Linked DNA regions of Homo sapiens: region 2 is linked to region 1. Evidence: fine-mapped expression QTL. A gene starts in region 1. The other region holds a variant in brackets. All regions are shown on one strand. Distances are between the middles of the regions. Region 1 holds the start of ATP11C (ATPase phospholipid transporting 11C (ATP11C blood group)). Region 2 overlaps ATP11C (ATPase phospholipid transporting 11C (ATP11C blood group)).

Region 1 (5,375 bases):
GGATGGAGTTTTGCTCTTGTCACCCAGGCTGGAGTGCAGTGGTGCGATCTCGGCTCACTGCAACCTACACCTCCCAGGTTCAAGCGATTCAATTGTCCTGTCTTAGCCTCCTGAGTAGCTGGGACTACAGGCATCCGCCACCACACCTGGATAATTTTTGTATTTTCAGTAGATACAGGGTTTCACCATGTTGCCCAGGCTGGTCTCGAACTCCTGACCTCAGGTGATCCACTCACCTTGGCCTCCCAAAGTGCTGGGATTACAGGTGTGAGCCACCGCGCCTGGCCCAATACTGCTATATCTTGAGGAATCTTAAAATTCCTGTGATTAGGCTGCAGTAACATGACAATGGGTATGTATGAGAGCATAATGCAAACAAAAAAAAATTTCAGGTCTCTAATATTTTTTAAAGTTGATCTGTTTGAATCTATAAGCAAAGTACATTTTTTCCACTTGTTTAACAGAATTGAATTTGGAACGATATTATTTACTATTCACTAGCAAGCACTTGTATCCCCAAATGTCTAAATTAGTTTATTATTTTATTGATAAGGATGTATTTTGGTAAGAATTCTAGACTTATACCTAGAACTAAAGACAATAACCTCCTCCACCTCCCAATTCCAGTATCTAGAATAATGTCTGCCACATAGCAGTCGTTCAACAAATAAACTAGTGAAGAAATTACAGTATTTGCTGTGTTCAATAAAAGTAAAGCTAGAGGCCGGGCATGGTGGCTCACGCCTGTAATCCTAGCACTTTGGGAGGCCGAGGCGGGTGGATCACCTGAGGTCAGGAGATCGAGACCTGGGCAAGATGGTGAAACCCCGTCTCTACTAAAAATACAAAAATTAGCCGGGTGTGGTGGCAGGCATCTGTAATCCCAGCTACTTGGGAGGCTGAGGCACGAGAATCACTTGAACCCAGGAGGCAGAGGCTGCAGTGAGCCAAGATCGCGCCACTGCACTCCAGCCTGGGTGACAGAGTGAGACTGTCTCAAAAAAAAAAAAAAAAAAAAGGTAAAGCTAGAAAGCTAGAAAATAACTCTATTTGAAAATCTTTAAAGCAGTAGAGAGCAAAACTTTAGATCTCTTTTGTCAATAAAATATCATAATATCTGATTAATATAAATATAAATTTAACATAAATCTTAAAAATCATTAGATACAGGCTCAACTGTGAGCAGAGAAGGAATCATAAGAGGGGAAGAATTGAAAACGGTTGGTTTTACTTCTTGGCAGTTAGGACAGTTTGGGAACAAACCTTAGGTCTCCTGCATTTGCATTTTATTGGGAGATGGGCTTCTCGTTGATCGCAGAATGAAGTTCAAACTTCGTAACATGTTTTTGAAGAGTTTTAGATTTTAGCTTTCGTTCGAGCCGCCCTTACCTACACGTCCTGGGCGTCTGCCACTACAGCGTGATCTCTTTCTTAGTTTGTCCTGCGCTTTTTCACCGACCTCTCCCTCTACCCTGGACTTTGTCCCCTTGGGCTCAGTCAGGTCCCTCTAAAGCCTTCCCACGTTTCAAGGGCTAGTTTAATCTCCAGGGCTTTTAGGAAAACTTCCCAAACCCCATTTTCAGATGCAATGTCGCTCTCCCCTATTTCTCTAGCACTTTGAACTCTAGCTATTATTAAATTCTAACGTGGCATTTTCGCTTGTTTGTATCCCCCAACCAGATTGCGACCACCCTGTTGGGGAGGTCTTTTAAGAAATCGCTGTGTCCAGCCCTGGCACAGTGCCTGGTACAAAGAAAATTCCCAGCAAAGGTTTGTTGAAATGAATCCGAACTCCGGAGGGTAAAGGAGAAGCGCCTATGCCTAGTAGTAAAGGCCTATTCGCGACCTTTGGGAAGGCCTGTGGTGTGGCTGGGCCCTGTCCCCAGCTCTAAACTGGCAGGAGAACGCGGCGAGGCGGAAGACTCGTGTAAGAGTCTCTGAACTCCCTTTCCTTCTTTTTGACTTTTATAGAAGAATCTGCAAGTTCTTCTCCAACAGCCTTGGGCCCCGCCTTAAGGGGCGGTGAAAAGGGGTGGGGTTGTGGTAGTTGGGAGGGATGCCCAGCCTCGTGGCAATTCTGGACTCGCTTTTCTTTTGTAATTTTTAAAGTTTCGCAAATTCCAGCTCTAAGCTGGGGGCCGAGGGTGTAGAGGGTTTCCTGATGCGCACATTTTGCGTTCCAGGGAAAGCTCCCAGGATTCGGAGCTTTGCCTAATTTAGCCTTCTCACATGTCCCACCGCTAGGAAGGCTACCGAGTGCGCCCGGCCTCCACACCCAGCCGGCCGGCGTGGAGAACCCGCTGTTCAGCCCGCGCTTCCTTCTTCAACCCTCTGGGCAAACCCGGGACTAGCGTGTGGGGGAGCTCCCAGCCCGCGGTACCAGGCGAAGTAGGGGGACGGTTGGACTACAACTCCCAGGCTGCCCCGGGAGCAAGGAGGGGGAGGGGGCGAGCGGGAGGGGCCTGGGTGGGGCGGGGTGGGGGTCAGGGAAATCCCGCCCCGCTGCGCAGCAGCAACGACACAAAGCCTGACTTTACAACCTCAGAGAAAGTGGAAGTAAGAAGGCTTAGGTGGGCAGGCAGGACGAGAGAAAGACTGAGAGGAGGGAAAGCCGCGTAGGTGGGAGTACAGCGGCGCGAGGGTCGAGGGGGAACCCTCGTCGGTGCAGATGAGGAGGGTGGGCTTTCAGAACTAGTCCCCCCTCGCACCCCGCCCCGCCCCTCCCGCGCTGGGGTCTTCACGGTGCCCTGCCTCAGAGCCCGGCTCCACCACGCCCGGAAGAGGGAGTCTGGCCGTCGGCTGGCTCAGGGCGGGCCGGTTGGCTGTACCCAGGCTCCCTGGCCCGAGTGCGGGACCAGAGCGCGGGGCGGCGCGGCAGCCGCGGACCGAGGAGGGGCTGCGAGCGAAACGGCGCGGCGCGGCACGGCGGACGAGTTAGGGCCGGGGCGAGGGAGGCTGTGGCTCCCGACAGAGACAGGGGAGTAGTGTCGGGCTGAGGCGAGGTGAGGCGCGGGGTGCCTCGGGAGGGTTCCCCGTGCCCCGAGGGGGGCGGCCGCGGAGTCCAGCGGGGAGGCGGGCGGTGGTGCCGCGTCGGGGAAGAGCGCATCCCGCGGGGTGCCGAGCCCGGCGCTGGCGGAGAGACGGGGGCGCCCCCTCCCCACAGGAGGAGCCTCGCGCTCCTCCGCCATCCTTCCCCCGCGCGGCGGGCTCGCCTTCTCAGTGGGTGCTGCGCGAGCTGCCGGCCCGGGGTGCCGGGGCCAGATAAGGGCGATCCGCGGGGCCGCCGCCCCCGGGTCAGGCAGGCCGGGGGCGGGCCGCGAGTGAGGCGGGGCGGCGGCTAGGCTGCGGGCGGCTGGGGGGCGGGGGAGCGCGGAGAGCCGAGGGGGGCAGGCGGCGAGCGGGTGGCCCGGCCGCCCGCCTCGCTGCTCCGCTTGGCGCCGCCGGCCCACGCCGCAGTGTGTTTTGTGGACGGCGCCTTCCCAGACAGCCCGGTAGAGCCCAGCTCAGCGCCCGGCAGCCTTCGACGCGATGTTCCGCCGGAGCTTGAATCGTTTTGTAAGTACACTCGCTGCGGCTCCGCGCGTGCCGGTTTGCTTGCTCGCCAGCCCCTTCGCCGGGTCCCTCACAACAATTTTCTGAGGGGGCAGTTACGTCTCTGGGAGACACCACCACCCCTCTTCTTCCTTTTCACCGAAACACGGTGCCCAGGCGGCCGGGGAGGGGAGGCAGGTAGGGCTCTCGGGGTATCCCACCCTCGCCCCCAGGACAATTCGACCAGGGCTTCCCGGAGCTGTTACAAACTCTGCCTGAAACTGGGGGCCGCCTTCGGGCTGGGTGGTGGGGGGGACTCGTGGGGGGACCGACCCGGGGACCCCTCAGTTTGCCAATTAGTCGAAGATGGCGTTTTATTCTCAGGGAGGTTGCTTTCTTTTGTTTCCTCTGCCACGAGCACATGGAGGTAAACCTAGACCTGTCACGGTGGCCCAAAAGAAGAGCTGGGGGCTGAGGGAGCCGGAGACTAGGGCAAGACTCAGCCTTGCCTAGGGCTCAGCCAGCGGGCGGCTTCTGACCGGAGGCCGGGCAAACTTTGGAGACCCAGCCTACAAAGCTCACCTTTAGGGTGTTTGAAAGGCGAGCGTGATTGTCAGGGTGGGCCGGGTGGATGTGCAGCCGCGAGGAGGCTGCGCCGCCACTGCCCGTGCTGCCGATCTCTGGTCTGAAGCCTCGCGGAGGACTGAGCACTCCAGACCTTGAACCCATGGGAGAAGGCGGACTGTGACTGGACTCCTCCGTCCACGTTTACCCCCTTCAGAATCCCCAGAAAAGGGAATTTCATTTTCATGGGAGTTAGCCATAGGGAAAATCGCTTTCTGGCTACTGACTTTTTTGAGTAACCTGTTTACTCCTAGAGGGTACATTAAGAATGGAGCGAAACAGGACCATTTACGTTCCGTGCTGCTATTTGTAGCAACTTCCTTAATTGCAAGAGGTGGTGGCGGGAATAGGATTTTATTTCTGCCAATGATGTGGAAGAAAGGGTTCATCTGCAAATTTTGATTTTTCTGTAGTTAGGAAAAAGGGTTGAAAGCTGAGTGCTTTCCTCTACCTGCCTTAAAATATATCTTTTGAGAACATGTCGATTTGGTTTTATTCATGCAATTATTCCTAATCAAAACGTTGCTAACATTTTTCATACATCGGATATATTTGCTCTCATTTTTCCTTCATTTGAAACTTTCACAAGTGTACACTGGCTAAAAGTAATACTTGCACATCCCTTTTTAGAATAGTGCTGTGTTAATGGTTTTCTAAATGTTGACCCCACCCAGGAACATGCAGTATGAAATTGGAACAGATTATTACCTGTGGCATAGAGCAGTAGAGGTTGTACATATCAATCATCTTGAAATCCGTAGGTGATGGCTTGTACTGATAGCTTTGCTGAAGCAAGTGACTAAAATTGGTTTCTCACATTTAGCCTGAGAATGCAAGCGGGTATTGTTCTTAATAGCTGTTTCACATAGATTCTTGTGATCTTGGAGTGTTGCGTGGGGGTGACAAAAAGGGAAAGGTGGCAATGAAAGCTAATTGTATTTAGGAAAAGGATAATCTTTTCACGTGGCACTCTTATGGTGGAAAACAACTGGGCTCTGAATCATAATAAAATCATTAAACTTAAGTTGTTGAAATCCTTTTTTTTTTTTTTTAAGGATTTGAACATTTGAAACCGAACAACTCAAGTATTGGTCTAAAAGCCCATTGCTTCCCTTTTGCGAAAAGTGATCTGCATCGTATCAGAGTCTAGTAATTAAGCAGTGCTGGCCCAGGAAGCCAGGGCATGCAGTAGAATTTGCAGCAGTTGTTGAGGTGCCAGC
Region 2 (5,375 bases), 89 kb after region 1:
AATGTTTATTCTAACTAGTATCAGTCTGTTTCAGTCAAAATACAAACTATAACAATGAACACGCTATTTTAGAAATGTAGCCAAAATCCTTACTTATGATCTATGATTATGTTTCTTTTAAATTTTAAATGTATTCCTAGGAGTGAACGAAAGCGTTTCTTCATAGTGTTTTATGGTCACCATTAGAGCCCAAATCCTGCTTTCCCTATAGCAACTGGGTGGTTGTGTTTTTATTAATCTATTAATTTATTTTAAAAAAGAAAAAATAGCAGCAAAAGTAAAGTAAACCTTAGGAGTTACACAATGGATTGCATACTTAATGCTATGGACAATTGCTAACCCAACCTTACTTTAACATTTACAAAGCCAGTTTTGATTAGCTCTTTATTCCTAGTTATCAGATATACTCCATTTCTCTAAATTAAGTCCAGAGGTGGTCCTTACTGAGATTTATAGCCACTGATACCACAAAGTCTTATAATTTAGCTGTTTAAGAATTCTTTTGGGTAAAAATAATTTAGGAAGGAAATCTAGTGTTCACCAGGTTGGAAACAACTGGACATTAGTAAAATTGAAGCTCCTTAGCAAAGCTTATTCCGGTTTGTTATATAACATACCGATTAATAGCCAGAGGTTACCTGGATTCATACAAGAGGCACTGTTTCTCAAGGTCAAGCATTGCATGGCCCTTTATTGCAACTTTTCTTTTAAATATGAACGTATAAGTCAGACTTATTTTTGGATGATCATAGTGAAACCCGAAGATCCATAATGAAGTTTATGTGACAGAGATCCCCACACAACAATCTGAGCGATCTCTATAGTGGTGTACAACTTCCCTGTTGCTTTGGCAGTTTCTTAAACGTAATTATTCCCAAAGCAAATCTATTCAAGCATATTTAAAAAGAATGGGACAGTATTTGGCAAGCATAAGCGTGTTTTAAAAGTGATTCCAAAGATTTAAAGGTTTTAGCTGTAAGAATGATGGATAATGAGAATTGCAGAAAATTAGCGAGAGTTCTTTTGCCAAGAACAGTAGTTTGGGAAAGCTTTGGGCTTTAAATAGAGGGAATTATGAATAAAGACAGTAGTTGATAAAGATGAATACAGTAAAAATTAAAGTGTTGTTGCCTTTAAGAGTATTTTATGTATAAACTTGATTGATGTAAACTTAATTGTTCAATGTTTAAAAGCTCTAATTAATGTAGTTTATACTTAGTATGAAGCACATCAAGGTCTCCATTTCCTCTACTCACTGGAATAATTGAACTATATATTCAGACTTCTCTCACTGCTTCACTCCCTACATATATTCCCCTTTACTTTTCTCTCAAAAATCCCTGACTTCTCCTGATAAAAATAAATTGCTTTAAACATTTATTGTTAATAAATGCATTAATGAAAAAGCAGAAACATTTGTGGTGGTTTCTCTAGTTTTTTAAAGCAAATCTCTGTAGGGGTTCCTAATTTAGTTCTGTTCCACGTTGCCCTCTGGTCACTAAATCAAACACAGAGCCACTGCTGCTTAGGGAGCTGGCATTCTAGTAAGGCAAGCTAGTGCTAGGGCACTAGCTGGAAGCCTGTTTTGAGCTGACTGGAGGCTATGAACCCCCTAAAGAAAGAGACAGGGTCCCTTGGGCCTGAGGCTTATCGGTGATGGGAGGAAATGTTGGGTCCAGCCCCTGGGGAGGTGAGGTGCACTAGAGAAACTGAGAGGCAAACAAGTGTGTCCACCAGGACCTAATGTTGCTCACAACCCCTTAACCACTTAATCATCTGTCATTCTTTTAAGTAAATACCTGCTTATGCTCATTTTATCGTTTTGAACATTCCATCTTCAGGGTGCTAACTTGACAAATTTTTGGTAAATCTGTGCAATATTAGATAACCACAGGAACCTTTTTATTCAACTCCCACACTTTATGAATGGGAAAACAGACTCAGAGAGGGGGAACTGAGATAGAGTTGGCTTTCTGGTAAGATAAGCTTCCTAATTTAGCATGGGGATTATGCTTATCACTGTGTCTAGCTCATTCCATGTTCTTTAAATATTTGTTTCAATAAAATGGGATAGGCCTTTGGATTAGGGGATCTCACAAATACACAGGCCCCTACACACACACAGATTATTGATTTGATTTGGAAAGAATGATAGGAGAAGGTGAATGTCTGAGGCCAACCATTTGCAATTCTAAATCTGTGGCCCCCTTCTTGTTCAGAGCTGTTAGCTGCTCTGACCATCTTCTCCTCTTTAGTTAGGGTGCTACCAGGGCAGTATGGAAGGTTTCTTCCCACTGCTTGCCCTGCATATGTGCTTTCTT[CTTA/A]CTCGGCACCAGGCCTTTCCTGCATTGCAGGTATTGCAGGGCCACGTGGTATGACACAGTTGGGTGAATTTGATTACACATGCTGTTTATTTTTGCTTCCAGTCTAGTGCTTACCCAGAGCCCTCCACTCTCTGCTACTCCTTGCATTCAACCCTAAACTGAGTCATTTATCATAACCTTTGCTGAACCTTTTGAAGCTGATTTTTCTTTCCTTTTTGCAAGCATTTTGTTTTATTGAAGTCTTGAATGAAGTCACAATGTACTATTCTGTCTTTTGTTCATATGCTAATTAAGAAGTGTTATCTAGTTAGCGTGGCATAGTTCATTTACAAAACTATTCATGGTCATTTTGATTTTATAAGGTTTCTCTCTGTTTCTGTTTCGCAAAGACTGTATATATGTTTTTTAGTTAAACAAAGTTAATGTTAATTTCTTTCATTTGTGCTCCCTGAGTTTCAAGTGTAATAACCCTGCAGATATATTTCACCTATTTGTATTAGAATTATATTTTTTTCCATGGACATCAGTTTTTTTTTTTTTTCTTTGTCAGAAGCAACTAGTTATTGGCAGCAAAGGAATTTATTATTCCATTGTGCTATATAACACAACTAACAATTTTTTTTCAGTATTTACAATATGAAGGCACTGTTTCATAATTGCTTTATAAGTTGTCATCAACATAATCACCCCCTTTGAGACTGGTGGGAAAACTGAGACATCACATGGTTAAGGAGCTTGCCCCAGGTTACATAACTAATAAGTGGCAGAACCAATATTTGAACCCAGATATCTGGCTGTAGAACTGATACACATAGCCAGTATGCTTCTGTTCTTCATCATCCCTTGTACAGGCTCTTTGAAACAACCTGGTAATTGCCATGCTCTATGAAAAAAGGCCATTAAAATTGCAAATATTGGAGTACCTCTGATTTTTGAGCATCAAAAATATACCCATCAGAAGATATTCATGAGACAGTTAAACATTGAGGCTCCAACCTTGTTTATACTATATTTTCATCTCTGGTCATACATAACTTGATGACCCTTGGTGATCTCAAATGACTCTAAATGATACTCTGATTTTGGGGCTAGGCCTGTTTAATCAAATGAGTGAGCCATATCTGTTTGTAATTCTTCCATCCATCCATCTTTCCATCTGTCCATCTATAGAATTCTTCATCTGCACGTAACAGACACTTAGGTGTTACTTATCCTTACTGCAGAAGAAGTCCTGTTGTATCCTAAGAGAATAAGACACAGCTTCAAGAATCACTGGCTGATCACCTTGAGGGGAAGCCAGTTTGTAAGGGTTCGCCAATTTTATGTATCTGCAGCCTTCCATATGTTACAGGGACTCTTAATTAAGCTGCTGAATTTGGCATTAGTTGAACTTTCAGTTTACTTTCAAGGAGAGTCATGCAGACAATTCCAGTCCAAGAGAACAGCAGTTGGGAATAAACTGAGATACTTGGCGAGAAAATGAGGTGGGAGTTGAATTTGATGACAGCAGAGCATTCTTGCTGGAGACTACTAGTGGAAAATGAAGTTAGAATGGCAAGGGAAAGTAAGGTTTGTTAGAGTAGCTCTGAAACCAAGCACAGTATACAACTGAAAATAAAATTCTCTTGTCATTGTATGCAGACTCTAGCTTTGGAGCCTGGCACGTGTGAATTATACAAAGATTTTCAAACTAATTTGATCGTATTCTAGATCACAAGAGGCCAAAATTACCCAACGCTCAGACACATTAATCTCTTGGAAATTTAAGACAAACTCTACGCAGCCCCAGTCAGCCTCTACATTTCAGCAACTCTTATTCCTTTCTTCTGTATTTACTTAGCAGTGCGCTGCAAATATACTTGTATACTTCCTTCACTTATGTCCTACTTGTGTTTCCTGTCAACTCTATGAGATTGTAAACTTGCCTATTGCAGGAATTGATACAGCCCTAGCTCAGAGGTCAGTGAGAGGTAGAATGCAAGCAAAAGGAGAGAAGTGATTGGGCTTCGCCTCAGCCTGTACCTACTACCCAGCTGATACTTTTCACAATGGCAAAAGGTGAAAGAGTGGAAGAAAAGGGGGAGAGTTACTCTATGGCACATGGCAGGAGGAAGATTGGTACCCTTGGAGGGCATGTATGGAATTTAAAACCTGCTCACTTTGGGAGGCTGAGGTGGGCAGATCATGAGGTCAGGAGATCGAGACCATCCTGGCTAACACGGTGAAACCCTGCCTCTACTAAAAATACAAACAAATTAGGTGCGTGTGGTGGCGGGTGCCTGTAGTCCCAGCTACTTGGGAGGCTGAGGCAGGAGAATGGCGTGAGCCTGGAAGGCGGAGCTTGCAGTGAGCCGAGATTGCACCACTGCACTCCAGCCTGGGCGACAGAAGGAGACTGTCTCAAAAAAGCAAAACAAAACAAAACAAAAAAACCTGCTCATGCATTCTGGGCAGGGCAATGCAAGGCAAGATAAGTGGAGCCTTGGATAGCAATGGGCCTGTCTTTGAGTTATAACCTGATAAGGTCCTAGTCCCAGGAAAATAGCTAGGGGAACGAGGAAGAAATAACTTTCCTTAGGGAAATCACTTAAAAAAATCACCTTACTAGGTTCCATTGTTTCTGAGCTCCAGAGCAAGATGGAGTGTGTATATATGTGTATGTATGTATAATGTTTTAAAAACTTTATTGTTTATTGCCTTTTCCATCCCAAGGTACCAGAAAATTTCATAAGTGGCAATTTTTGTGATTGAAATATACCACTTAGGTGTTCTAGTTGTTCTTCTACACAAGATTCACTGTAGTCTCAGCATGGGGATGGCAAAAGCTGATAGGAGAAAATTTTCTCTCTTGTCTTTTGAACATCAATGAAAGGAGAGTTTTCCTTACCTCTCTGCAGCTCTTGAATGTTGAATTTTAATATTCTCATTTGGAGTTTCATTTGAACAAATAGCTTTCTTCTCCAAGCCCTTGTACCACCAATCATTTCAACCTGCAGTTCTCCTTCTCTACTCCACCTCACCCTTTGTAGAAACAATTCTTTGGTCTTAGAA

The links. PIP is the estimated chance that this variant, and not a neighbour inherited with it, causes the effect.
Region 2: its variant is the best candidate, but not a certain one, in a credible set for the expression of ATP11C in whole blood (TOPMed, PIP 0.57).

What each region holds. Positions count from the first base shown.
Region 1 is chrX:139,930,196-139,935,570 of GRCh38, reverse strand. ATP11C (ATPase phospholipid transporting 11C (ATP11C blood group)) reads left to right here and starts at 2,518. Exons shown (of 30, transcript NM_001353812.2): 1 at 2,518-3,555. The coding sequence starts at 3,529. RefSeq lists enhancers at 1,832-1,881, 1,922-2,271 and silencers at 3,052-3,291, 3,332-3,491.
Region 2 is chrX:139,841,403-139,846,777 of GRCh38, reverse strand. All of the region lies in intron 1 of ATP11C (ATPase phospholipid transporting 11C (ATP11C blood group)), which reads left to right. Among named protein-coding and RNA genes, the nearest start is that of MIR505, 80 kb to the left of the region's middle. The variant CTTA/A (reference allele first, on the strand shown) is at 2,322.